Homo sapiens: one gene and its partners. The gene in region 7 interacts genetically with the main gene of each other region. Each region holds a gene or a part of one and is shown on either strand. Other genes may lie near its edges. The genes, in order: AMHR2, ACVR1, TCOF1, PDCD7, SRFBP1, CYP4F12 and CIT.

Region 1 (4,058 bases), about 66 Mb from region 7:
ATAAAAAAGATAAATAAAAATTATTATTTTGAGACAGGGTCTTACTCTGTCACCTAGGCTGGAGTGCAGTGGCACAATCTTGGCTCACTGCCAGCCTTGACCTCCCCAGGCTCAGGTGCTCCTTCCACTTCAGCCTCCCAAGTAGCTGGGACCACAGGCATGTGCCATCACACCCAGCCAATTTTTTGTTTTTTGTAGAGGTGGGGTTTCACGGTGTTGCCCAGGCTGTTCTTGAATTCCTGGGTTCAAGTGATCCTCACACCTTGGCCTCCCAAAGTGCTGGGATTACAGGCGTCTGCCACCGTGCCCAGCCTGTTACTATTTTTTCACATGGTCTCGCTCTGTCTCCCAGGCTGGAGTGCAGTGGGATGCTCACGGCTCACTGCAGCCTCAACCTCCTAAGCTCAAGCGATCTTTCCACCTCAGCCTCCTGAGTAGCTGGGACTACAGGTGTGCACTGCCATGCTGAGCTAATTTTTGTAATTTTGCAGTGATGGGGTTTCCTCATATTGCCTAGGCTGGTCTTGAGCTCCTGGGCTTAAGCGATCCACCCACCTTGGCCTCCCAAAGTCCTGGGATTACAGGTGTGGGCCACCTCGCCTGGCCATTTTTAATGTTTTAGAAAAGAGAAAATCGAAAGCAGAAGCAATCAACAGGGCCCAGCTGCCATGTAGCCCCCACCTCTATACATACACACAGGCACACACACACACATATACACTCCTTGGTGCTCACCTTGGGATGCAGTTCCAGTACCAGCAGGGGCCCAGAGAGCAGGCGGCCAGGACCCCCCCGGCTGGCAGTGATAAATCGGACAATGTGGTCGTGCTGTAGGCCTGGAAGTTCGTACAATGCTCTCTCAGCTTGGAACTGAGCCACAGACCTCGGTGGGAAGGCCTTGATGGCAACCAGTTTTCCTTGCAGCTGCCCGGCCCAAACCACTGCATGACCTCCTTCCCGGATTACCTGCTGGGGACACTGTGCTGAGTGTGGGCCTCTGAGCTATAACAGGGCCAGGATTCCTCCCCAGCACAACCTCCAGGAGTGCCCAGAGGAGCCCTTCTCTCCCTCCCTGGGGCACCTGGGAGAAACACAGCTCAGGCAGCTCCTGCAGCTCCACACTCCAGTCCCTGCCTGAGTCTGGCCTTGGCTCTGGCACTGGCTCACCTCGCACTCTGTAGTTCTTTCGCTGTAGCAGGGCTGGAACAGACAAGAGCCTTAGGGTCAGGGTGCAAATGCATAGGGACAGGAAAAGGGACTTCGTGGAAAGGGAGCTTTGTGAGAGGTCATGGGAGTCCGGGAATCAGGCTATAGAGATCCCAAGACCATGGGGTCAGGGGTGCCTGGAGAGGGGTCAGAGCTTTTGGGGCAATGTCTTGGGGTCACAAGGGAGGGATGGGGTGGATTAGTACCCAAGATGATGCTGCCCAGCAGCAGCAGGAGGAGGAGGAACAGCCCCAGCAGCACCAGTGCCATCCAGATGGACTCACCTGGACATCAAGGCAAGAATGCAGGCTGGAGAGCACTGACCCAAACCTGCTCTCTGCTCTTCCCCTCCTGAGAGCTTGCGTCTCAACCCACCCCCACCCTGGTCACAAGACCCCTTATCTCCCAGTCACCAGGGCAACCAACTTCCCAAGGCCAGGAGGAGGAAAGCGTGGGGCGGGAGTAGGGTGAGAACTGGCCCTGGTTCCACCTCTCATCCTAACCTGGGCCCCAGCCCCCATCAGGCTTCAGTACCCTTGGGTGGCTACCTGGGGCAGCCTGGGGACCCTGGGAGCCAGGAGTCCCAGGGCTCCCTGGAGGAGGCAGATGGCTGTAATTGGCATTGCAGAAGTCAGTGCCACAGGAGCAGGTGAAGAGAGTGGAGCCAGGGCTGGGGTGGGCTCGGGGACTTGGGTCACAGTGGAGGGACTCACAGCCTGGCTCATCACTGTCTCGGCATCCTGATGGGATGGGATTAGGGGAAGAGGAGAGAAAGGGGGGGCAAGGAAGAAAGCACAATGGGGTGTGGAAACAGAGGGTAAATCCCTTCTCTATCAGAGGCGTCCCTTCCAGCTCTCATGGGCTTTTCTTTCCCACCAGATGTTCTATTTCTCCCCTTCCCCCTTGGTTGCCACCCACACCCCAGGATGTGTCTGTCTCCCACCCTAGCCATCACCTGCCATATACTTTGCCATTCACCTTGCATTTCCACCTGTGCCCGGTCTTGGGTCAGGTTCCAGATCCCAAAGCAGCAGCGGCTGTAGAGGCAGCGGATAGCTCTGGGGAGCTCTGTGCCTGTATCTAGCAGCTCTCCCAGTGTCTTTGTGCTTCCCCGCACTCCAGGGGCCTCAAAGAACACACAGGTTCGCCTGTTTGGGGGTGCTGAGGCCCAGGGTGGGGAAAGGAAAAGATTCAAGGTGGGAGTGAATGCAGAGGCAAAAAACTGGCCAAAAGAATAGACAAAACATGTTCCACATCCCAGCGTCAGTATGGTAAAGCCACAGGAGGAAGCAGGGTCAGCAGAGGCCTGGAACCTGAGCCCTGCCATGGGGACACATGGCTCTATCCTTCACCCTTACTCACCCAGCCCACTCACCACTCTTCCAAAGGGGTGGCTCTTGCTTCAAGCGCCCCTTTCCCTTGCTGGATGGATGGAGAGACCCTTCCCCTCCCTGTAGACACTTACCTTCCACAGCTGTGGGAAGTAATGCCCAAAGCCCCAAAGACCCTAGCATCTTGCTGGAGGATGGCAGCAGCAGAAGGAGAAGAGCATAAGCCAGCACAGCTGCCCCTGGCCAAATCTTTCTTCAGATACAGGGCATCCTGGGGCTTCTGATCCCTCAGTCCCCAACTCCGCCCCCCTCATCCTATCCCAGCCTCTGTGGGGGAGAAGGCTGCTGTGGGGGAGAGGGTGGGTGTGGGGAAAGCAGGGAAAGAAAGGGAGGAGCAGAGAACCAATCTCATATCCTCTTCTCTTCTGCAACCTCCTCTTTGCTCTGCATAGTGAGAGGAGGGGAACTTGGAGGCCCAGCTGAGAACCCAGTGATGCCTAATTTCAAATCTTTGCCCTTCCCTGACCTTGGAAGAAGATGCTGGACTCTGTTGACTCTTCTCAGGAGGAAACCAATGTGAGGTCAAATGCTTAGAGCCATTCAGCTCTGCCCAAGATCCTTTCTAGCCTAAGATCTCTTTATATTCAGGGTTCATATCTGCAACTGCTTGGGCAGAGGAAGGCCTCACAGCCCATATTAGAGGTTACCTTGTTTTCCAACTTAAGAATCAGAAAGTATACAAAACTTACCTGAATTTTTAAAAAACACATTGAAAACAGTAACAATGGTAAATTTTGCTATGTGGATTTTTTTTTTTTTTTTTTTGAGACGGAGTCTCGCTCTTCTCCCCCAGGCTGGAGTGCAGTGGCACGATCGCAGCTCACTGCAACCTCCGCCTCCTGGGTTCAAGCTATTCTCCTGCCTCAGCCTCCTGAGTAGCTGGGATTACAGGCGCCTGCCACCACACCTGGCTAATTTTTGTATTTTTAGTAGAGACGGGGTTTCACCATGTCAGCCAGGCTAGTCTCGAACTCCTTACCTCAGGTGATTTGCCCGCCTCGGCCTCCCAAAGTGCTGGGATTATAGGCGTGAGCCACCATGCCTAGCCGTGGATTTTACTTAAAAAAAAAAAACACATTGGTTCACAGGCTGAACAAATACCCATTATTAAGGAGGTAACAAATTTCTTATCAAGCACCTACTATGTGCTGGGGCACAGCTAGGGCTATGCATTTTACAATCATCTCATCTAATTCTCCCCTGAAATATTTATTATTATTATTTTATTTATTTATTTTTTGAGACCGAGTGTCGCTCTGTCACCAGGCTAGAGTGCAGTGGTGCCATCTTGGCTCACTGCAACCTCTGACTCCCTGGTTCAAGCGATTCTCCTGCCTCAGCCTCCCGAGTAGCTGGGATTACAGGCACGCACCACCATGTCCAGCTAATTTTTGTATTTTTAGTAGAGACAGGGTTTCACCATGTTGGCCAGGATAGTCTCGATCTCGTGACCTCGTGATC
Region 2 (3,500 bases), on a different chromosome or scaffold from region 7:
CCTAAAATCTTTCGTCTCCTACTTGGGAAACATTGTAATTTCTCAATGTAAAAGCAAAGACTTTAAAGGGATTCAAAGGAAATAAATTTTCCTAACATGTCAAATCCCTTATGTTTAAAAACAAACAAAAATAAACTTTGTTATTTACATAACTAAAGCTATTTTTGTCTAAACCTTTATCAGGCTAACAATAATTGCAATAATATAAATATCATATAAACCATGTTTAATCAAGTAGAGGGCCCTGAATTCTCATTAGCACAATTATTTAGCCAATATTCTAGGAATCCAGGAAGAACATGGTTTTATATAAAATGCCACTATAAATGAAAATACTCTTATTTATAATGCAACTAAAGCTACACTGAGTACTACTCTAACACCATAAGAATGAGCTATCCTAACAGGGAAAAGAGTGAATCAGTTCGGGGATTATTTTCCTATTTCTTAACTTGATTCTTTTGCCTTGGTTACAGAATGATTTTAGAGACCACTTTTAAGATAAACTAATTCTATAGAGTATTTATTGTGCACCTACTTTATGTGAAGGTTAGTGAAACCAAAATGCAACAGTACTGGTTACTTCTGAGGTGGGGTGTGGCAGGGACTGACTGAATGAGCCTGAGGTAACTGTCAAGAGTAATGGGAAACTCTGTATCTCGACAGGGATTTGGGTTTTACAACATTTGTCAAAACTCTTAAGATTTGTATATCTCACAGTATATAAATTTTACCTGAAAAAAAGAAAAAGCAAATAATGCATTCTTGTCAATGATATACTAGTGTACATGCTGAAATCATCAGAAGAAAGAATTCCTTTGTCTGCAATTTACTTTCAACTCTATCAAAGGTTGATATGGACTGATGGATGGGGAGATGAATAGATGAATAAATACATAATAATGCTTAAGGATAGTAAAATGTTAATGTGAGAATCTATGTGGTGGGTATAAAGGTGTTCATTGTAAATGTTCAACTTTTCTGCATGTTTGAAATTTTGCATAACATGTTGTGGGGGAGAGATGCAACTCACCTAACCATTGAAACAAAAATAAAACTGGTGAGGAAAAAAATATTTTTAGAAATTTACCCAAATCTGCTATGCAACACTGTCCATTCTTCTTAACCAGAATATTTTTGCTCTTTAAATCTCGATGGGCAATGGCTGGTTTCCCTTGGGTCCCAAATATCTCTATGTGCAAATGTGCAAGACCACTAGCTATGGACAGCACTATTCGAAGGCAGCTAACTGTATCCAGAGTAGTAAGCTGAAGATAGTCGTACAACGATCCCATTTCATGATAATGTGTAATTAACCACAGCTGGGTACTGGAGTGTCTTGATGTCATGTCTGAAGCAATGAAACCTGGAGAGAGCAAGAAAAAAATTAATATACATGAGGATTCCACATTATAACTTAAAGTATTTAGAAATAGCGACCTACACAGTAAATGTCATCTGTAACAAAAAGTAATTAAACTGACCAATTGCCCTAAGAGGAGGTTTACAGAAGCATCAACAGAGAAAAATAATAGCATTTATTCCTTAAAAGGGCACTGCTAATAGGAAAATTTCATATTCATTTCATTATAAGTAATACTTTAAAAGATATTTTACATTCCTTAAGTTTCAGATAGCAATAATATCTTTGTGCTCACCCATAATGATAGTGCCAAGCCCTTCAGCATGTTGATATTTTAGGAACAGACCATTCATCAACCATCCTAAAAGAACATCAAATCTAAAACCTGAGTACTGTATTCTAGTCCTGACTCTGCCTGTGATTTACTTGTCTAATACTGGGCAACTCAGTTAGGCTCCTTAGCCTATATCTGCTCAGATGTAAAATAAAGGGGGCAAGTTTACATTAAATGATTGACTGATTCACGAAATAAAAAAAGAAACCAACCAAATATATGAGTATTTATGATGCTATCTGTCAGTCACACACAGAAAAACCAAGATGATAGTGTTTGCTGGCTAAAGAAGACAGATGTAAAAACGAAAACACTACAATAAAATACGAAAAGTACTATAATATATATCTTCAAAGGGCAACATGAGCCCAGAGCAGGAAATTATAGTAATTCAGACTAGGTGTTACAATAGGCTTCCATTAGGAAGTGGCAACTCAACTGGTCTTGAAGTAAAGTGAGTGACTGACAAATGTGGATGAAGAGGTTGGAGAAGATTTTTCTTTTTCTTTTTCTTTTTTTTTGAGACGAAGTTTCCCTCTTGTTGCCCAGGCTGGAGTGCAATGGCGCGATCTCGGTTCACTGCAACCACCGCCTCCTGGGTTCAAGTGATTCTCCTGCCTCAGCCTCCCGAGTAGCTGGGATTACAGGGGCCCACCATCACGCCGGGCTAATTTTTTATATTTTAAGTAGAGATGAGGTTTCCCCACGTTGGCCACGCTGGTCTCAAACTCCTGACCTTCAGGTGATCCACCTGCCTTGGCCTCCCAAAGTGCTGGGATTACAAGCGTGAGACATCGCGATCAGCCCGGAAGAGATTTTTCTAGACATCTGGAGGGAACTTTTGAGCATGCAGAAGACTGTCTGGAAGTTAGGGGCACTTCCTATCTTATGAAATAAATTGTGACGTGTGCTTGCCTTTTCTGCTACAGAGGTGCCTTTCTAGGATTATTCTCACATATATGAACCACGCTGGTAGACAGTGAAGTTTGGGACTTAAAAAGAGGTGAGAAAAAAAATTTTTTAAGACGGATATGGCTTGAGGAAGAATTAAATGACTTATGAAAATGTAAGAGAAAATACATTAAAATGCTTTATACTTGCATAGTACTTTATATAAAATTTATGTCACTTTCACATATATTTTCTCATGAGATTTTTCCCAACAAGCTGGTAAGAAAGACATCATTATGCTCATTTTACAGATAATAAAGTTGGTGCTGGGAGATGCCAAGGATCACACAGCTATTTAAGTTGCTATCAACTCTGAATTTAGTGCTAGCTGTCCTGATACCTTGCATAGGAAGGCTCTGTGAGCCAAGAAAGGTCCCCTATTTGATCATCATCATCATCGGCAACCACAACAGAGGCAGCTAATAATTATTGAGTACTACATGCCTGGAACTTTATATGCAATCCTCCAAAAACCACATGAAGTAAGTAGATCGCATAATTGATATTAGGTTCCTGTAGGTCTGATTCTAGAACCCAGACTCTTACTGACTATGCCATACTGTCCCCAAACAAACTGATTTCTACTCAGAGAAAAAATAATTTCACATTTTCACCTATGGGACATATGCAAAGCAAACTGAATAATATTTTAGCACCTTCACCCTCTACTTCTTTCTCTCTCTTCCTCTAAGCCTATTCCCATGGCCAGCCCTGAGTCTCCCACTCCTTCCCTGCTCCCCAGTCTGCTTTTCCCCTCGATGCTGCTTCTCTTGGAGCCCTTAGCTGGCCACAATATGCATCAAAATGTGTTCTTGGACATTAGTTATTCTTAATAAAGAAAATGTTTCTGCT
Region 3 (3,500 bases), on a different chromosome or scaffold from region 7:
CAGTAAAGTGAGAAGTTCCCTGGGCACCAGATCAGTTCATCCCTGACTTGTGCTGGTTTTCCCTTGAAAACATCTTTCCAACTGTGGACACCTTGGTCTCCCAGCCCCCAGCCTCTTATGCCAGTATCAGTATTACTCCAATAGTCTCCTACATGGTCTTACTGCTTTTATTCTGCACTGCCCTCCAACCCAGGCTGCAGCCAGCAATCTTATTAAATGCAAATCAGGCCATCTCTCCTTGCTGGCATGGCTTCTCACAGCCCCTAGAATAAAACCCAAATTCCTTATGGTGGTCCTCAAGGTCAGACAGAAGATCTGGCCCCTGTCTACCTAGGACTTCATCTTGTGTCACTTTCCCCATAATTTATTTGTTTTTTTAAAAAATAACATCTTGTAGAGACAGGGTTTCACTATGTTGCTCAGGCTGGGTTCAAACTTCTGGCCTCAAATGATCCTCCTGCCTTGGCCTCCCAGAGTGCTGCACTTACAGGTGCGAGCCACCGTGCCTGGTTTCTCCCTCTCATTTAAAGATCAAGGTTTTGGCCAGGCGTGGCGGCTCATGCCTGTAATCCCAGCACTTTGGGAGGCCAAGGCACATGGACCACTTGAGGTCAGGAGTTCGAGACTAGCCTGGCCAACATGGTGAAACCCTGTCTCCACAAAAAATACAAAAATTAGCCAGGCGTGGTGGCGTGCACCTGTAATCCCAGCTACTTGGGAGGCTGAGGCACGACAATCGCTTGAACCCGGGAGGTGGAAGTTGCAGCTAGCCAAGATCGCGCTACTGCACTCCAGCTTGGGTGACACAGTGAGACTGTCTTAAAAAAAGATCAATGTTCTTTAAAAGCACCAAACTCTCTTTGCCGCCTTCTCTGCACATGCCATTCCTTCTGCTTACGCCTACTCATCAACGTCAGGTTCCTGCCCTGCGTGGCCCTCTACATTTCCACTTCATAGCAGCCATCACCAATTAAATATCTGAGGGACGCTCCCTTGCCCCATGGCAGCAGGAACTCTGCCTGTCCTGCTCATCACTATATTCCCCAGGTCTGCCACTTAGTAGGTACACAATAAAAAGTAACCTGTGGAGACCTTTTCCAGGTCAAAGTTCACAAACCCAAGAGTCCTGCCCAACTCTAGCCAAGTGTCTAGGCCTGGCATTCACCAGTTGGCCCAGAACCCTCTCAGCAGCCGCAGCCCTAGCCAGACCACGACAGCCACACTGTTGCCTCTGGGCCCTGTTCTTGCCCCATTTCCTGTCTGGAATGCCCTGCCTCCTCCACATCCCTTCCCAGTGAAGCCCACTGTGCTTTGAGGCCCTACTCCAGGGCACCTCTCCCAGGAAGGCTTGTCTAGTCTCACAGGCAGGAGGGTGTCCCTCTCCTGCCCCCAGGGCTGATCTCACACTCAGAGTGCAGCAAGCAGCACCAGACTCCTCTCCCTGCCCCTCTCCGGCTGCAGCCTTTCCAGCTCCTGGTCACCCTACCACAGTTGCTGAACTCATCTGGGCCCACTGGTGTCTGAAGCCCCAGACAGGTTCCTGGAAGGGTTAGAGGCTGGGAGAGGGCAACTCCTAGGGATGGGTGGCAATTACCTCCACGTCTGTCTCATCACTGGAGCTGGAGGTGTCCTCGCTGGAGCTGTCGGCCTGGCCCGCTGACACCATCCCTGAGGATCGGACACGGAGGGGACTGAGGGACTCCCTTTCCAGCCTCACCTGCCCCTCCCCAGCACCTCCCCACAAACCAGCTGCTCATCAAAGCCAGGTGCTGAGCGCTCACCCCTCGTGTGCCTCACATGCACTGAGCTGTGAAGCCCCCTTCTGAGGTGGGTACCATCACCATCCCTATGTTCCCACACATCTCTGAGGCCCTGGGAAGGGCTGTGAGGGGACCCAACAAATATGCACCAGCACCTGACAGTCTACAGAACCTCCATCCACCATCATATCCACTGATGCAGGCCAGACAGATGTCTACTCTACATAGGAAACAGAGGCAAATCAGGCCTTTCAGTTTAGTCTCTGAGCTGCCAGTTGTCCCTGTAACTCACCAGGGAGTCATAAAGCAGAAAATGCTCCAACCACCAGGTGGGCTGTTCAGCCTGAGGCCAGGTCCCTGTAAGCTGACCCTCCCTCGTCTAGGTGATGAGAAAAGTCCTAAGATGCAGGAACCTGGCTGTCCTGGAGACAAACTTTTGATTCCAGAAATGTCCCAGAACTTAAAGCAATGCCTAGGCCTGCCTCACCAGCCCAAGTTCTGGGGACTAGGTTCCTAGAGGTGGGGACTTCTTACCAGGCTTGGCAGCAGCTCCAAAGGCCGGGACGCTGCCCTCCTCCTCAGTTTCTGAGACCAACGTAGTATTTGCTGAGGGCTCTGCTGACTTCCTGGGAGACTTCCCAGAAAGAAGGTTGGCCACCGTCTTCCCAGTGGCAGGGTGTGGCATGGAATTCCCAGTCTTGCCAGCTTTCTCTGTCTCTGCCTACAGAGAACAAGAGTGACAGACACATCTGGTATGGCATGGTGAACTAAGAGCACAGGCCACTTGCATCTGAACCCAATCTTACCACTTCTTAGCTGTGTGAGTTTGGGTAAACTACCCCTTCAATCTGTTTCCCAATCTTTAAAGTGAGGTTAAAAACAGCACCTCCTCTCACCAGAGGTGTTGAGAAAACAGAATCCCAGTTCTTGGGACATGGTAGTTATTTACTAAGTGGTAAGTAGCAGTTTGTTGTTGATCTTATCATTACTTCATAATTACTTTGAGACATTGTTGCTAATGCTCCAGGCAATCGCAGAGGCACAATTCTTTATACATGTATGTATCTAACTCTGCTTTCTGGATTATTAGAAAATGACACCTTGTTTTTTGAGCAGTTTCCAGTTTGGAAAATGCTTTTAGAGTTTCAGAACCACAGATGTCTTGATCACTACGGTGCCTCCACACCTAGCACAGTGCCTGGAACATAACAGGTATTAGTCAAGATCTGTTGAGTGAACGGGTGAACGCAGGCATGAAAGAGGAAAGAAATCGCCTACCCCAGGTGTAGAATGTGCCCAGTGGCCCACTGCAGCAGGCATCATCCTTATCTTTATAGAAAAGTAAACTGAGGCCCAGAGAGGTGAAGGGACTAAGATCCCACAACTGGTGACACAGGTTGAGCTCTGAATCCAGGTGGGGCAATTACTCACAACCCTATCCTTCTCTGACATGTAAGACTGTCCCCTACCAGGCACCTTAAATCCCATAGGCAATAGCTTGGAAGGCAGTCCCACTCACCTTGGCTTTTTCTTTCATGCTTGATGGCAAGTCCGCCCCCAGGACTGAGGAGTTGGTAGATGCTAGTCTTGGGGCTGCAAGAAACAAACATCTGCTAAAGGAGCCAGATGAGCTTTTCTCATCTATGAATGGCAAACAGGTTTCATCTCACCTAACAATTCTATTGGTATTGGCTGCCTGGTGCTGGCATGAGGATCTGAGGCTGAGCCCAGACTTGCAGG
Region 4 (3,465 bases), on a different chromosome or scaffold from region 7:
CAACTTAGTAGAAGATAAATTTGAGTTGTAGTGTTTCTGTAGTTGAGAATGAGTGAATGGAAACCTGTAGAAGCAAAGCAGTTAGGAGAAAATCATCTAGAGAAATGTTAGCCTTGAGAGTGAGTTCCACAACCACTTAGCTGTAGTGGTTGAAGGAGGAAAGAATCCTACCTCCAAATTACAACTTTACAAGAAACAGAACTACTAACCTTGAGAAACCATTATTTATGCCATTTATCAGCCCAAACTGAAAATTTAGTGCTCAAAGCTGGCACTATTGTATAACACAAGTTGCAGCATAAATTGTTAAAACCCTGTTGAAGGGCCGGGCATGGTGGCTCATGCCTGTAATCCCAGCACTTTGGGAGGCCGAGGTGGGAGGATCATGAGGTCAGGAGATCAAGATTATCCTGGCCAACATGGTGAAACACTGTCTCTACTAAAAATACAGAAATTAGCTGGGAATGGTGGCACATGCCTGTAATCCCAGCTACTCGGGAGGCTGAGGCAGGAGAATCGCTTGAACCCAGGAATCAGAGGTTACAGTGAGGTGAGATCGCGCCACTGTACTCCAGCCTGGTGACAGAGCGAGACTCCGTCTCAAAACAAAACAAACAAAAAAACCTTGTTGAAAATCATTCATTCATTGAAGAAGTATCTATTAATTACCTTCTCTGTGTCAAGTGTTTGGTAACTGAGCAAATATATAGCTTTTTTAGGAAGCAGTTTAGAACACAGTTTGTTAGTCTTGAAAGTATTCACAAACATTTCCATTTTTGAGAATTTTTCTTTCTTTTTTTTTTTTTGAGACAGAGTTTCACTCTTGTTGCCCAGGCTGGAGTGCCGTGGTGCGATCTCGGCTCACTGTAAGCCCCGCTTTCTGGTTTCAAGCGATTCTCCTGCCTCAGCCTCCTGAGTAGCTGGGATTACAGGCACCTGCCACCACGCCCGGCTAATTTTTGTATTTTTAGTAGAGACAGGGTTTCACCATGTTGGCCAGGCTGGTCTCAAACTCCTGACCTCGTGATCCACCCGTCTCAGCCTCCCAAAGTGTTGGAATTACAGGAGCCACCCTGCCCGGCCAAGAATTTTTCTGATAGAAATCCCTAGGAAGGAAAAAAGTAACATGCCCAAGAATATTCATTGTATCACAATATAATAACAGGACATTTGGAATAGCTTAGGTGTCCAGGAGTAGGGAACTTGATAAGTATATTCTAGTGTATTGATTTGATGAAATAGGATACAGCCATTAAATAATTATGAAGATTGGAGAAGAACGTACAGAATCAACAGGGAGAAGTGGAAATTACATACATGTAACGTTGAACTATATGAAGTTGCTAATACATGGACAAAAAGACCTGAAGAGAATGTGAGAAAGTATAAAATGGTTGATTATGGTAATGGGATTAGGATTTTTTTTTTCTTTCTTGTATCTGGTATTCTTTTTTTTTAAATTTATTTTTTTGGAGATAAGAGTCTTGCTCTGTCACCCAAGCCAGAGTGCAGTGGCATGATCTTGGCTCACTGCAGCCTCCACCTCCTGGGTTCAAGCGATTCTCCTGGCTTAGCCTCCTGAGTAGTTGGAACTACAGGCGCACGCCACCATGCTCGGCTAATTTTTTGTATTTTTAGTGGATATGGGGTTTCACCATGTTGGCCAGGCTGGTCTTGAACTCCTGAGCTCAGGCAACCTGCCTGCCTCAGTCTCCCAAAGTGCTAGGTTTACAGGTGTGAGCCACCACGCTTGGCCCTGTATCTGGTATTGCTAAAATGCTTGGGTAACATATTTTCCTTTAAAATCTTCAAGGACTGACAGGATAGATCACATCCACATCACTCTACATTGATTCACCTGGAAGCTTTTGTATTACAGGGCCATTATGGTAGTGAGTGCACAATTGCAGTCCACTCAAATATTCATTAAGTTAAAATCTTTTTTTCTTATGAAACTTTATGAAACATTTCACACATGCACAAAAATAGAATACATAAACACTCATCATCAACTATGATACCATTGTCACACCAAAAAAATTAGCAGTAATTCTTTGATATCACCTAATAACCTGACTATTTTCTCCACTGTGGCTTTAGATATGTTGGCTATACTGTTAGCTGACCTCATAGTTAAATCAGGATAATAACCATCCCAGTTTTACTGGGACTTGGGGCTTTCAGTGCTACATGCAGGCAAACCAAAACAGTTGGTCAGCCTACTGTCAGCAGCAGACTGCAAGGTCAGTGTGGTTGTTTTAAGTGTATCTTCCTCACCATCCAAGTGTGCACTCCCAAAATTCACACTCAGTCAGAGGAAGAATTGTTTATTAATTAGATCTGGGAGTTGATGCTAAGGGAATTTCACAAACAATGAAGTTAAGACAAGTTCCTCCCTTTAGTGAGCTCACTGTTTCAAGTGGAGGATCAAGACCATTAGAAATAAACAAAGTCGAAGCCAGGTATGGTGGTTCACGCCTGTAATCCCAGCACTTTGGGAGGCCAAGGTGGGTGGATCACCTGAGGTCAGGAGTTCGAGACCAGCCTGACCAACATGGAGAAACATCTACTAAAAATACAAAAATTAGCCGGGTGTGTTGGTGCATGCCTGTAATCCCAGCTACTCAGGAGGCTGAGTCAGGAGAATCGCTTGAACCCGGGATGCGTGGAGTTTGCAGTGAGCTGAGATCGCACCATTGCCCTCCAGCCTGGGCAACAAGAATGAAACTCCATCTCAAAAAAAAAAAAAAAAAAAGAAAGAAAGTCAGAGGTTAAGTGGTGTGGATGATCCAGAGGGAGGAGTTGAGAAAGTCAGGGTAGGGTCAGAGTAATTGAATACTCAGAAACATCAAATTGAGCCTTAAAAGATTGGGTAAAATTTCTAAATTTTAACCGATACATACTATAGCTAGGACTTTTAAACTTCCTCATTATAACACAAATTTTGGGATAAGAAAACGTGTGTAAAAGGCCATTTGGGCTGGATGCAGTGGCTCACTTTGGGAAGCCAAGCTGGTAGGATTGCTTGAGGCCAGGAGTTAGAGATTAGCCTGGGCAACATAGCAAGACCTCATACAAAAAAGTTTTGGTCTTTTTTTTTGGAGACGGAGTCTCACTCTGTTGCCCAGGCTGGAGTGCAGTGGTGTGATCTCCGCTCACTGCAAGCTCCACCTCCCAGGTTCACGCCATTCTCCTGTCTCAGCCTCCCGAGTAGCTGGGACTACAGGTACCTGCCACCATGCCTGGCTAATTTTTTGTATTTTTAGTAGAGACGGGGTTTCACCGTGTTAGCCAGGATGTTCTCAATCTCCTGACCTCGTGAGACCTCATACAAAAAATTTACAAATTAGTAGGTAGGGCCAGGCACAGTGGCTCATGCCTGTAATCCCAGCACTTAGGGAGGCCAAGGCAGGGGGATTGCTTGACCAGGAGTTTAAGACCAGCTTGAGAAACACAGGGATACCC
Region 5 (3,500 bases), on a different chromosome or scaffold from region 7:
CTGGGCTTAAGACCACCCTGATCCACTGTGATTCCACATAATTTAATCTGCAAAGACTTTGTTTCCAAATAAGTTCACATTCTGAGTTTCCAGGTGGATGTGAATTTTGAGGGGACGCGATTCAACCTAGTACACAAGGTAATTAAATAGCAGATGGTCCTGGCACAGGATTTGCACCAGGTGTAATTTAAATAGATTATTCTTTGAGTGACATTACTCACATAAATCCTACAAACAGAATAGCTTGCATACTGCCATCATCTTGTTTTTATTTTGGTATTCGTACATTTATAATACTGGGTTGGAAATGTCTTATATTTGACTGTTCACAATGAAGGGTAAATTTAGGATAAAGACATTTGAAACTGGTTGTTTTACTTTCACACACTAGTGAAATTTATTCACTTGCTTTATTAAATGTGTATTGGGTGCCTACTATTATTACCAGTCACTATTCTAGGCACTGAATCTACAGCAATGAGGCAAACAAAGTCTCTGCTTTGCAGATATGAAAACATCTACACTGCCATGCAGTGGTAAGTGATGTGAAGTAAATAGTGATGGGAAGTGTTGTGCTAGTTGAGATGACATTTAAGCAGAGACCTGAATACAGTGAGATGATCAGCCGTGTATATATTTGGGAGTAGAGTATTCCAGGTAAAGAAGAGATTGCAATGGTATGGGCTAAGCATCAGAAAGCAATAAAGCTTAAAGAAGAACAGATATGGAAATAGCATGATTTGATTACATTTTTAAAAATCACCGTGGCTGTTGTGTGGAAAATTGACTGTTGAGAGAGCAAGTTGCAAAGGAGAGTGACCAGGCATAAGTTTAATTATGTTGGTCCAGGTGAGAGGTGTTGGTGATTTAGTCAAAGGTAGTAAGAATAGAAATGGTGAGAAGCGACTGGTTCTGGATATATTTTACATTTGGAACCACAGGGTGTATTGTGAGTTTTGAGGGAAAGACAAATAGTGGGAAAGAATCCTTAGAGTTTTAGGCCTGAGCAACCAGAACAATGGAAATTACATACAATAAGATGGAAAAGCTACAGGAGAAGCAGATTTGTGAGGAAAAATCAAAGAATTCTGTTTTGACAATGTCAAATAGATGTCAGGTTAGGTGGTTTGATGTATCAGCTTAGAGCTCAGGTTGGAGCTGGAGGTCGAAATTTAGATGTTGTCAGCCTTCATACGGCATTTCAAGTCATTAGCCGGCATTATGATTTTTCCAAATTTATAAATATATTGAATACTGTATATAATGTTCCCATTCAGTCTAGGCCCTGAGAACGTGTCAGTGATAGTAGACATTTAAAATAGAAATATAGAGCGTTAGATAATTTCTAGGTCTCTGTTAAATGGAACTTCAAGTATTACAGTAGTCTCACCCAGTTTAGCACTAATATGTTATTTGATTCTTTGATATTAATTTAGTCTTCTTAATTAGATTGTTCAAGCTCTTTGATAGTAAAAACTATGTTCTTTTTTTGATGTTACACATGGTGCTTATCACAATTCTGAGAATATTAAGTATCGTATCCAAAGAATATTTATTAATGATTAAGTGATAATTTTAGTTGTTCAAAGGCAGTAATATTTTTGTCAGGATGATCTTTGTCTTTAGCATGGATTGATTATACAGATATCTTATCTAAGGAGAATATTAACTAGTTCTATTCTCCAACTCTAATTTTAAAGACTATGATAGATTTTATTTTATTCACTTTCAATAGTGTCATTTTTATTTCATTCCCATACGTTTATTATATTTTTAAATTTGCAGCCAGATTCTACTGCAACTGAAAGAGCAATTGCCAGACTAGCAGTACATCCTCTTCTGAAGAAAAAGATAGATGTGCTAAAAGGTATGAATTAAATGACTTTTAAGCCATGTACTTAATGTATTTGTAGACTTTGGATAATGGCTATTCACTTATTTTAACTCTTGAGGTTCTATTATAAATATAAGTTTCTTTCAAATATTTACCAGTGTGGAAGGTGTCTGAAAATACAGAAAGTGTGATCTCTGAAGAAAAACCAAATCTGTATTGTTTAGTAAATTCTAATATGTGAACGTATAATACGTAATATATATCTTTTTATATATAATATATACAAGATAAAGTTGAATAGTTTTTTTAAAATATTGACATAACTCATTAGTTTTGGTTTCGCCACTTAGGAACATAATTTTATATATGTTTATTATAAAATATATCTATAAAATGAAATTTTTTTGTCACATGATACTGAATTTTATGTCTGAAAGCACAGTTTATAATAATGCATTATTATTATATAAATTAAAGTTGCCATTCCCTTTTATTTGTATTCTGTGATGTTTTTACTGTTCTTCATAACTCCAAGACATGAAGAAAACATTTTCTTTTCATTTTCACAATTTAAAATGAATACGTCTGAGCATATCTTATGTTTGGTTTTTAAGAAGTCGAAAGATTTCTTTGTGAATTCAGACCGAGTATATGTATTTAATATCAATTCCAACTGCCCTCTTAAATCTTTTCAAATAATTTTTTAAAATACTGTCCTAAAACAGTCATGTTTTATATGTTTCAGTGCTAAAATGAGTGATGCACTGTTTCTCTTGCAGCTGCTGTACAAGCCTTTAAAGAAGCAAGACAAAATGTTGCTGAAGTTGAGTCATCAAAGAATGCTTCAGAGGACAATCATTCTGAGAATACTTTGTATTCAAATGATAATGGAAGTAATTTACAGCGTGAAGCAACTGTCATCAGTGAGCAAAAAGTCAAAGAAACCAAAATATTGGCGAAGAAACCAATACATAATTCAAAGGAAAAAATAGCAAAGATGGAACATGGACCTAAAGCAGTGACTATTGCAAATTCTCCATCAAAGCCTTCAGAAAAGGATTCTGTAGTTTCCCTTGAGTCCCAGAAGACACCTGCTGACCCAAAACTGAAAACTCTAAGTCAAACCAAAAAAAACAAAGGATCTGATAGCTCACTCTCTGGTAACAGTGATGGCGGAGAAGAATTTTGTGAAGAGGAGAAGGAATATTTTGATGATAGCACAGAAGAAAGGTTTTACAAGCAGTCTTCCATGTCTGAAGATAGTGATAGCGGTGACGACTTCTTCATTGGGAAAGTCAGACGGACACGAAAGAAGGAAAGTAGTTGTCATTCTTCAGTTAAGGAACAAAAACCACTAGAAAAAGTGTTTCTTAAAGAAGATACAGGTGAAACTCATGGGGATACAAGAAATGACAAAATCAAGCCAAGTACAGAAACCAGAAAGTTAGAATCAGTGTTTTTCCACTCTTTATCTGGATCTAAAAGCTCTAGAAGGTAAGATTCTTTTTCTATTCTGAAATAATCATTAGTTCTTTTTTAAAAAGCTATAAATGTCTACTTGTCCATACATGAAGAGACTATAATTCTAGTTTGTACAACCCATCCTGTTTTTAGACATGGCCCTCTCCAAGGTTGTAGTGGGGTATTAGGTACAGATACACATATG
Region 6 (3,500 bases), on a different chromosome or scaffold from region 7:
TAATAACTATGGTAGTGAAAGCAGAGTCTGGCTGTGGAAAATATGGGAAAATGGTAATGGCTTCCATTTTAACCCAAAGGCAATGGGAAGCCATAACAAGTGGTTGAGCAGGGGAGGGGCAGGTCATATCTGGGCACCAGAAAGATCTTTTCAGAGCTACTGTGGAGAGAGGACCAGCTGTAGAATGAAGTCCCAGTGAAGACATTCTGGGACCTGAGCCAGGGCAGGGGCTGGGGATGGAGAGGAGGCAATGGACTGGACATGTGTTTTGGAGGCCGTGTCCTCCCGTCCAAGCCTTTGCTCAGCACAGCAGTCCTAAAAGGTGGCAACACTTTTTATGCTTTTAAAAACCAAGATATCAAGTAATACTGTGCACTTTGTAAACAAAAAAAAGTGTCTAAAACATTTATAAAAATGAGCTTTCCTCATGCCTGTAATCCCAGCACTTTGGAAGGCCGAGGCGGGCGGATCACGAGGTCAGGAGATCGAGACCATCCTGGCTAACACGGTGAAACCCCGTCTCTACTAAAAGTATAAAAAATTAGCCGGGCGTGATGGCAGGTGCCTGTAGTCCCAGCTACTCTGGAGGCTGAGGCAGGAGAATGGCGTGAACCCGGGTGGCGGAGCTTGCAGTGAGCTGAGATGGCACCATTGCACTCCAGCCTGGGCAACAGAGTGAGACTCTTTCTCAAAAAAAAAAAAAAAAGAGCTTCCTTCTTAACTGTCACCCTAGTAGTTTCTACCATCAATGGTTTTGTGTGTCCCTCCAGAAGATGGCTATCTTGATGCCCACTTTATAAGAACACAGACTTCTTCTATACAAATAAGAGTGTATAAAATAGACACAGTACTTTTTCCCAAGATGGTGGGTTGGAGGCAATGTCAGTGTGCCTCTCCCATGTGGAAGGACAGAATAGTGTGTAGAGATTCACAGTGTAAGCTTTCTTTTCCCAAGAAACAACACAGGGACTTAACAGGAAAACCAGAAGAATCCACAAACCCTTCAAAAGAAGCTACAGGCTGCATTCTACTCTGTGAGACAGGTGAAAAACTGTGAATCCTCAGAGTAAGAGGGGGAGAGACTGCTTCCTAGGTACACATCTTCACTGGGGAATCTGAAAATCCAGACCACAGGAGAAGGCCTTAACTCTATCCAGGGCTTGAACTGATTTAGGGAGTGGTAAGAAATATAAAAGTAGAAGCAGCAGCAGGAAGTCCCTTGCAGGCATTCACAATCTCCAGCATGGACTGAGGGAAGCCATTCCTTATTGTATCTCACAGGGGACCTTGGGGAAGTCAGACAACTAGCTCAGGTGAGGTCACAGGTTGAACGAAATGCCCAAATGAATTTCTTGATATAACCTCGAGTGGGGATGAACTCCCTTGACCAGAACCCGGGAGGCAAGCAGGAAGTGTGCTGCAGACAGGAGTTCAGAAGCTGGGTGCCTGGCCTTGGACAGGGACAAAAAAGGACATGGCCTGAAAGCATTGCTATTTCTGTGGGAAAAGCTTATGGCCTGGGGCAGGGCTGAGTTCTGTGCACAGACTGCCTGGATCTAAATCCAGTGCTATGAGTGGAACACTGCATGTGTGAGACCCACCTTGTGCCAACTGCATGGGAGCTAGATGAGGCTTACTGCCACCTGCTACTCTCCACTCCCTTGTCAAACTCTTCTGTGAGGCAGAGGCAGTTATACTCACCTCTGGATCATTACCCCAGTGACCTAAGAACCACCCTCTGACTCTCACAGGGCAAAACAAACAAACAAAAAAACAGTTGCAAAAAAAAAAAAATACCTAGGAATATACTTAACCAAGGAGGTTAAAGCTCTCTACAAGGAGAACTACAAAACAGTGCTGGACAAAACCATAGATGACACAAACCAATGAAAACACATCCCATGTTCATGGATTGGAAGAATCAATATTGTGAAAATGATCATAGTGCAAAGCAATCTACAGATTTAACGCAATGCCTATGAAAATACCTTCATCATTTTTCACACAACTGGGAAAAGCAATTCTAAAATTCATATGGAACCAAAACAGAGCCTGTGTAGTCAAAGCAATACCAAGCAAAAAGAAAAAATTTGGAGGCATCACATTACCGGACTTCAAATTACATTACAAGGCTACAATTACCAAAACAGCATGGTACTGGTATAAAAGTAGGCATTTAGATGAATGGAACAGAAAGGAGGACCCAGAAATAAAGCCAAATACTTACAGCCAACTGATCTTTGACAAAGCATACAAAAACATAAATTGGGGAAAGACACCCTATTCAATAAATGGTGCTGGGAAAACTGGACAGTCACATGTAGAAAAATGAAACTGCATCCCCATCTCTCACCTTGTACAAAAATCAAAGGCTTAAATCTAAGACAGAAACCATAACAATTTTATAAGATAACCTTGGAAAAACTCTTTTGGACATTGGCCTAGGCAAAGAATTCGTGACCAAGACCACAAAAGCAAATGCAACAAAACCAAAAATAAATCAGTGGAACTTAATTAAACTAAAAAGCTTCTGCACAACAAAATAATAATAATAATAATAGCCGACTTAACAGACAACCTACAGAGTGGGGGAAAATATTTGCAAACTATGCATCTGACAAAGGGCTAGTATCCAGAATCTACAAGGAACTCAAACAACTCAGCAAGGAAAAAAAACAAACAAACAATTAGTTCCATCAAAAAGTGGGCAAAGGGCATGAACAGATAATTCTCAAAAGAAGATACACAAACAGCCACGAAACATATGAAAAAATGCTCAACATCACTAATCATCAGGGATATGCAAATTAAAACCACAATGAGATACCATCTTGTTTCTACAAGAATGGCCATAATTAAAAAGTCAAAAAACAATAGATGTATGTTGTGGATGTATTGAAAAGTGAATGCTCATACACTGCTATGAAAATTAACATAACCTCTGTGGAAAACGATAAGGATATTCCTTAGCGAACTAAAAGTAAATCTACCATTCCATCCAGCAATCTCACTACTAGGTATCCACCCAAAGGAAAAGTGATTATATGAAAAAGACACATGCACATGCATGCTTATAGTAGCACAATTCACAATTGTAAAGGTACGGAACCAACCTAACTGCCCATTGACCAATGAGTGGATAAAGAAAATGTGGCATATATACACAATGGAATACTACTCAGTCATAAAAAGGAATGAAATAATGTCTTTTGCCGCAACTTGGATGGAGCTGGAGGCCATTATTCTAAGTGAAGTAACTCAAGAATAGAAAACCAAATACCATATATTTTCACCTATAAGTGGGAGCTAAGCTGTGAGGACACAAATACATACAGAGTGATATAATGAGCTTTGGAGACTCGGAGAGCAAGGTTGGGAGCCGGGTAAGGGAGAAAAGACTGCATATTGGGGACAGTATACACTGCATGGGTGATGGGTGCACTAAAACCTCAGAATTCACCACTATAGAAATCATCCATGTAACCAAACCACTTATATCC
Region 7 (3,500 bases):
GGTTGCCTTCCAGAAGAACTTTGAACTTTTGGAAATGTTTAAATCATGTGCATGAATGATCTGTGTAATTTTAGGTTTGCGATCGAGGAGAGGGATGGGTGTGGAAGACCAGGGGCTCCCCCAGGCAGGGCATGGCTCAAGTGCTTGGTGCCTCCTTAGCAGGCTAAGCAGGTCAAGGAGCCACCTTTCTGCCATTTGGGGCTGATTTTCTGGGTGGCATTCTCCTTCTGATGCCACCTGCAGTTCACCTGCTGGTAAAGAAAGAAGGAAACACCATCCATATGGCTTCTTATCCCTCCCAATTGACCGATGAAACTGTGTATGTGCATGTGTGTGTATCACATGCTTACAGCATCGCAGGTACACACACGGCTTTGGGATTTTCCAGTGAGTTTCACTCCCTGGCTTCCCCAGGCTCTGGAGCGGGTGCTGCCCTGCCAAGCACTCACTGCTAGCTGCTGAAGGGGATAGCCCAGGGGCTGCAGATTCCCATTTGCATCATGCAAGGTGAGCACAGCAACTTCTGGCCTCGGATGGCTAACACTCCTCCTTATTTCACTCCTAGGTCTGGGACCAGTCTTCAGTATAAATCTCAGCCAGAAAAACCAACTCCTCATCTTGATCTGCAGGAAAACACCAAACACACTATGGAACTCTGCTGATGGGGACCCAAGCGCCCACGTGCTCAGCCACCCTCTGGCTCAGCGGGGCCCAGACCCACCTCGGCACGGACACCCCTGTCTCCAGGAGGGGCAGGTGGCTGAGGCTCTTCGGAGCTGTCAGCGCCCGGTGCCTGCCCTGGGCACCTCCCTGCAGTCATCTCTTTGCACTTTGTTACTCTTTCAAAGCATTCACAAACTTTTGTACCTAGCTCTAGCCTGTACCAGTTAGTTCATCAAAGGAAACCAACCGGGATGCTAACTACAACATGGTTAGAATCCTAATTAGCTACTTTAAGATCCTAGGATTGGTTGGTTTTTCTTTTTTTTTTCTCTTTGTTTCTTTCCTTTTTTTTTTTTTTTTTTTAAGACAACAGAATTCTTAATAGATTTGAATAGCGACGTATTTCCTGTTGTAGTCATTTTTAGCTCGACCACATCATCAGGTCTTTGCCACCGAGGCATAGTGTAGAACAGTCCCGGTCAGTTGGCCAACCTCCCGCAGCCAAGTAGGTTCATCCTTGTTCCTGTTCATTCTCATAGATGGCCCTGCTTTCCCCAGGGTGACATCGTAGCCAAATGTTTACTGTTTTCATTGCCTTTTATGGCCTTGACGACTTCCCCTCCCACCAGCTGAGAATGTATGGAGGTCATCGGGGCCTCAGCTCGGAGGCAGTGACTTGGGGCCAAGGGACCTCGAGACGCTTTCCTTCCCCACCCCCCAGCGTCATCTCCCCAGCCTGCTGTTCCCGCTTTCCATATAGCTTTGGCCAGGAAAGCATGCAATAGACTTGCTCGGAGCCCAGCACTCCTGGGTCTCGGGGTCGGGGAGGGGACGGGGGCACCCACTTCCTTGTCTGTGACGGCGTGTTGTTCCCCACTCTGGGATGGGGAAGAGGCCCGTCGGGAGTTCTGCATGGCAGTTCACTGCATGTGCTGCCCCCTTGGGTTGCTCTGCCAATGTATTAATACCATCCCATAGCTCCTGCCAAATCGAGACCCTCTGACGACTTGCCGACTAACTGGCCACCACAAGCTGCAGTCTGTAGCACTGAACAAACAAAAAACAAAACGCTCAAGCCTTACGACCAGAGAAGGATTTCAGCAAACCACCACCTCCCACTCAGTGTCCCCTCCAAACTTCACACTTCCCTGCCTGCAGAGGATGACTCTGTTCACACCCAATCCAGCGCGGTTCTACCCCACGAAACTGTGACTTTCCAAATGAGCCTTTCCCTAGGGCTAGACCTAAGACCAGGAAGTTTGAGAAAGCAGCCGCAGCTCAACTCTTCCAGCTCCGCCAGGGTTGGGAAGTCCTTAGGTGCAGTGCGGCTCCCACTGGGTCTGCGGACCCTCCTATTAGAGTACGAAATTCCTGGCAACTGGTACAGAACCAACCTAGAGGCTTTGCAGTTGGCAAGCTAACTCGCGGCCTTATTTCTGCCTTTAATCTCCCACAAGGCATCTGTTGCTTTGGGTCCTCCACGACTCTTAGGCCCGCCTCAACAACCCAGGCACCTCCTAGGTAGGCTCAAAGGTAGACCCGTTTCCACCGCAGCAGGTGAACATGACCGTGTTTTCAACTGTGTCCACAGTTCAGATCCCTTTCCAGATTGCAACCTGGCCTGCATCCCAGCTCCTTCCTGCTCGTGTCTTAACCTAAGTGCTTTCTTGTTTGAAACGCCTACAAACCTCCATGTGGTAGCTCCTTTGGCAAATGTCCTGCTGTGGCGTTTTATGTGTTGCTTGGAGTCTGTGGGGTCGTACTCCCTCCCCTCCCGTCCCCAGGGCAGATTTGATTGAATGTTTGCTGAAGTTTTGTCTCTTGGTCCACAGTATTTGGAAAGGTCACTGAAAATGGGTCTTTCAGTCTTGGCATTTCATTTAGGATCTCCATGAGAAATGGGCTTCTTGAGCCCTGAAAATGTATATTGTGTGTCTCATCTGTGAACTGCTTTCTGCTATATAGAACTAGCTCAAAAGACTGTACATATTTACAAGAAACTTTATATTCGTAAAAAAAAAAAGAGGAAATTGAATTGGTTTCTACTTTTTTATTGTAAAAGGTGCATTTTTCAACACTTACTTTTGGTTTCAATGGTGGTAGTTGTGGACAGCCATCTTCACTGGAGGGTGGGGAGCTCCGTGTGACCACCAAGATGCCAGCAGGATATACCGTAACACGAAATTGCTGTCAAAAGCTTATTAGCATCAATCAAGATTCTAGGTCTCCAAAAGTACAGGCTTTTTCTTCATTACCTTTTTTATTCAGAACGAGGAAGAGAACACAAGGAATGATTCAAGATCCACCTTGAGAGGAATGAACTTTGTTGTTGAACAATTAGTGAAATAAAGCAATGATCTAAACTAATGTGTGCTTTAGTGCAATGACCTCTTCTTTTTTTGAGAGACTGTGAAAGAAAAACTATCACCAGCGTGTCAGTGTAGGTGTATTATCATGGATGGGACCTTCTTTACGTTGTGGGGAGGGTTTTCCTCTGGAGTGGGATAGAGGAAGCCACGTGGTGGTTAGGGCACACTGCTATCCTGGAATTAAGCGATTGGTGACATTCTCTGCCAAGAGTTTGACTGTGGAAATTTGGTCAATACTTCCAGTGAACCATGAACTGGCTATTAAGGTCATTTTATAGGACTGCAGAGCTGGAAAGCTCTTCAAGCAGTCACACAGGACATTTGGAAAGGATTACTGAAGAATGGATTACCCAGTTCTATAATCAGCTAACCAGGAACAGGTCAGCTCAAGATATCTTTCATCTATTAAAAGGCCAACTACAATTTAATAATGTAGATTTCTTTGTAGAGAAGAATTCAAATCAAAGG

The links.
Region 1: changes in CIT (region 7) and AMHR2 together harm fitness more than expected from each alone (negative genetic interaction), as found in Homo sapiens cells (one large-scale study listed by BioGRID).
Region 2: changes in CIT (region 7) and ACVR1 together harm fitness more than expected from each alone (negative genetic interaction), as found in Homo sapiens cells (one large-scale study listed by BioGRID).
Region 3: changes in CIT (region 7) and TCOF1 together harm fitness more than expected from each alone (negative genetic interaction), as found in Homo sapiens cells (one large-scale study listed by BioGRID).
Region 4: changes in CIT (region 7) and PDCD7 together harm fitness less than expected from each alone (positive genetic interaction), as found in Homo sapiens cells (one large-scale study listed by BioGRID).
Region 5: changes in CIT (region 7) and SRFBP1 together harm fitness more than expected from each alone (negative genetic interaction), as found in Homo sapiens cells (one large-scale study listed by BioGRID).
Region 6: changes in CIT (region 7) and CYP4F12 together harm fitness more than expected from each alone (negative genetic interaction), as found in Homo sapiens cells (one large-scale study listed by BioGRID).

What each region holds. Positions count from the first base shown.
Region 1 is NC_000012.12:53,422,597-53,426,654, reverse strand, and holds the start of AMHR2 (anti-Muellerian hormone type-2 receptor isoform 1 precursor), read right to left. Parts: upstream 2,801-4,058; 5' UTR 2,721-2,800; coding exon 2,672-2,720; intron 2,368-2,671; coding exon 2,185-2,367; intron 1,947-2,184; coding exon 1,755-1,946; intron 1,570-1,754; exon of another isoform or gene 1,499-1,569; coding exon of another isoform or gene 1,491-1,498; coding exon 1,413-1,490; intron 1,201-1,412; coding exon 1,082-1,200; intron 970-1,081; coding exon of another isoform or gene 967-969; coding exon 736-966; intron 1-735. UniProt on the Homo sapiens protein: On ligand binding, forms a receptor complex consisting of two type II and two type I transmembrane serine/threonine kinases.
Region 2 is NC_000002.12:157,764,831-157,768,330, forward strand, and holds part of ACVR1 (activin receptor type-1 precursor), read right to left. Parts: intron 1,367-3,500; coding exon 1,091-1,366; intron 1-1,090. UniProt on the Homo sapiens protein: Bone morphogenetic protein (BMP) type I receptor that is involved in a wide variety of biological processes, including bone, heart, cartilage, nervous, and reproductive system development and regulation.
Region 3 is NC_000005.10:150,367,697-150,371,196, reverse strand, and holds part of TCOF1 (treacle protein), read right to left. Parts: intron 3,354-3,500; coding exon 3,280-3,353; intron 2,482-3,279; coding exon 2,295-2,481; intron 1,669-2,294; coding exon 1,595-1,668; intron 1-1,594.
Region 4 is NC_000015.10:65,120,344-65,123,808, reverse strand, and holds part of PDCD7 (programmed cell death protein 7), read left to right. Parts: intron 1-3,465. UniProt on the Homo sapiens protein: Promotes apoptosis when overexpressed.
Region 5 is NC_000005.10:122,017,475-122,020,974, forward strand, and holds part of SRFBP1 (serum response factor-binding protein 1), read left to right. Parts: intron 1-1,785; coding exon 1,786-1,867; intron 1,868-2,613; coding exon 2,614-3,328; intron 3,329-3,500. UniProt on the Homo sapiens protein: May be involved in regulating transcriptional activation of cardiac genes during the aging process. May play a role in biosynthesis and/or processing of SLC2A4 in adipose cells.
Region 6 is NC_000019.10:15,686,587-15,690,086, forward strand, and holds part of CYP4F12 (cytochrome P450 4F12), read left to right. Parts: intron 1-3,500. UniProt on the Homo sapiens protein: A cytochrome P450 monooxygenase involved in the metabolism of endogenous polyunsaturated fatty acids (PUFAs).
Region 7 is NC_000012.12:119,685,321-119,688,820, reverse strand, and holds the end of CIT (citron Rho-interacting kinase), read left to right. Parts: intron 1-565; coding exon 566-589; 3' UTR 590-3,030; downstream 3,031-3,500. UniProt on the Homo sapiens protein: Plays a role in cytokinesis. Required for KIF14 localization to the central spindle and midbody. Putative RHO/RAC effector that binds to the GTP-bound forms of RHO and RAC1. It probably binds p21 with a tighter specificity in vivo.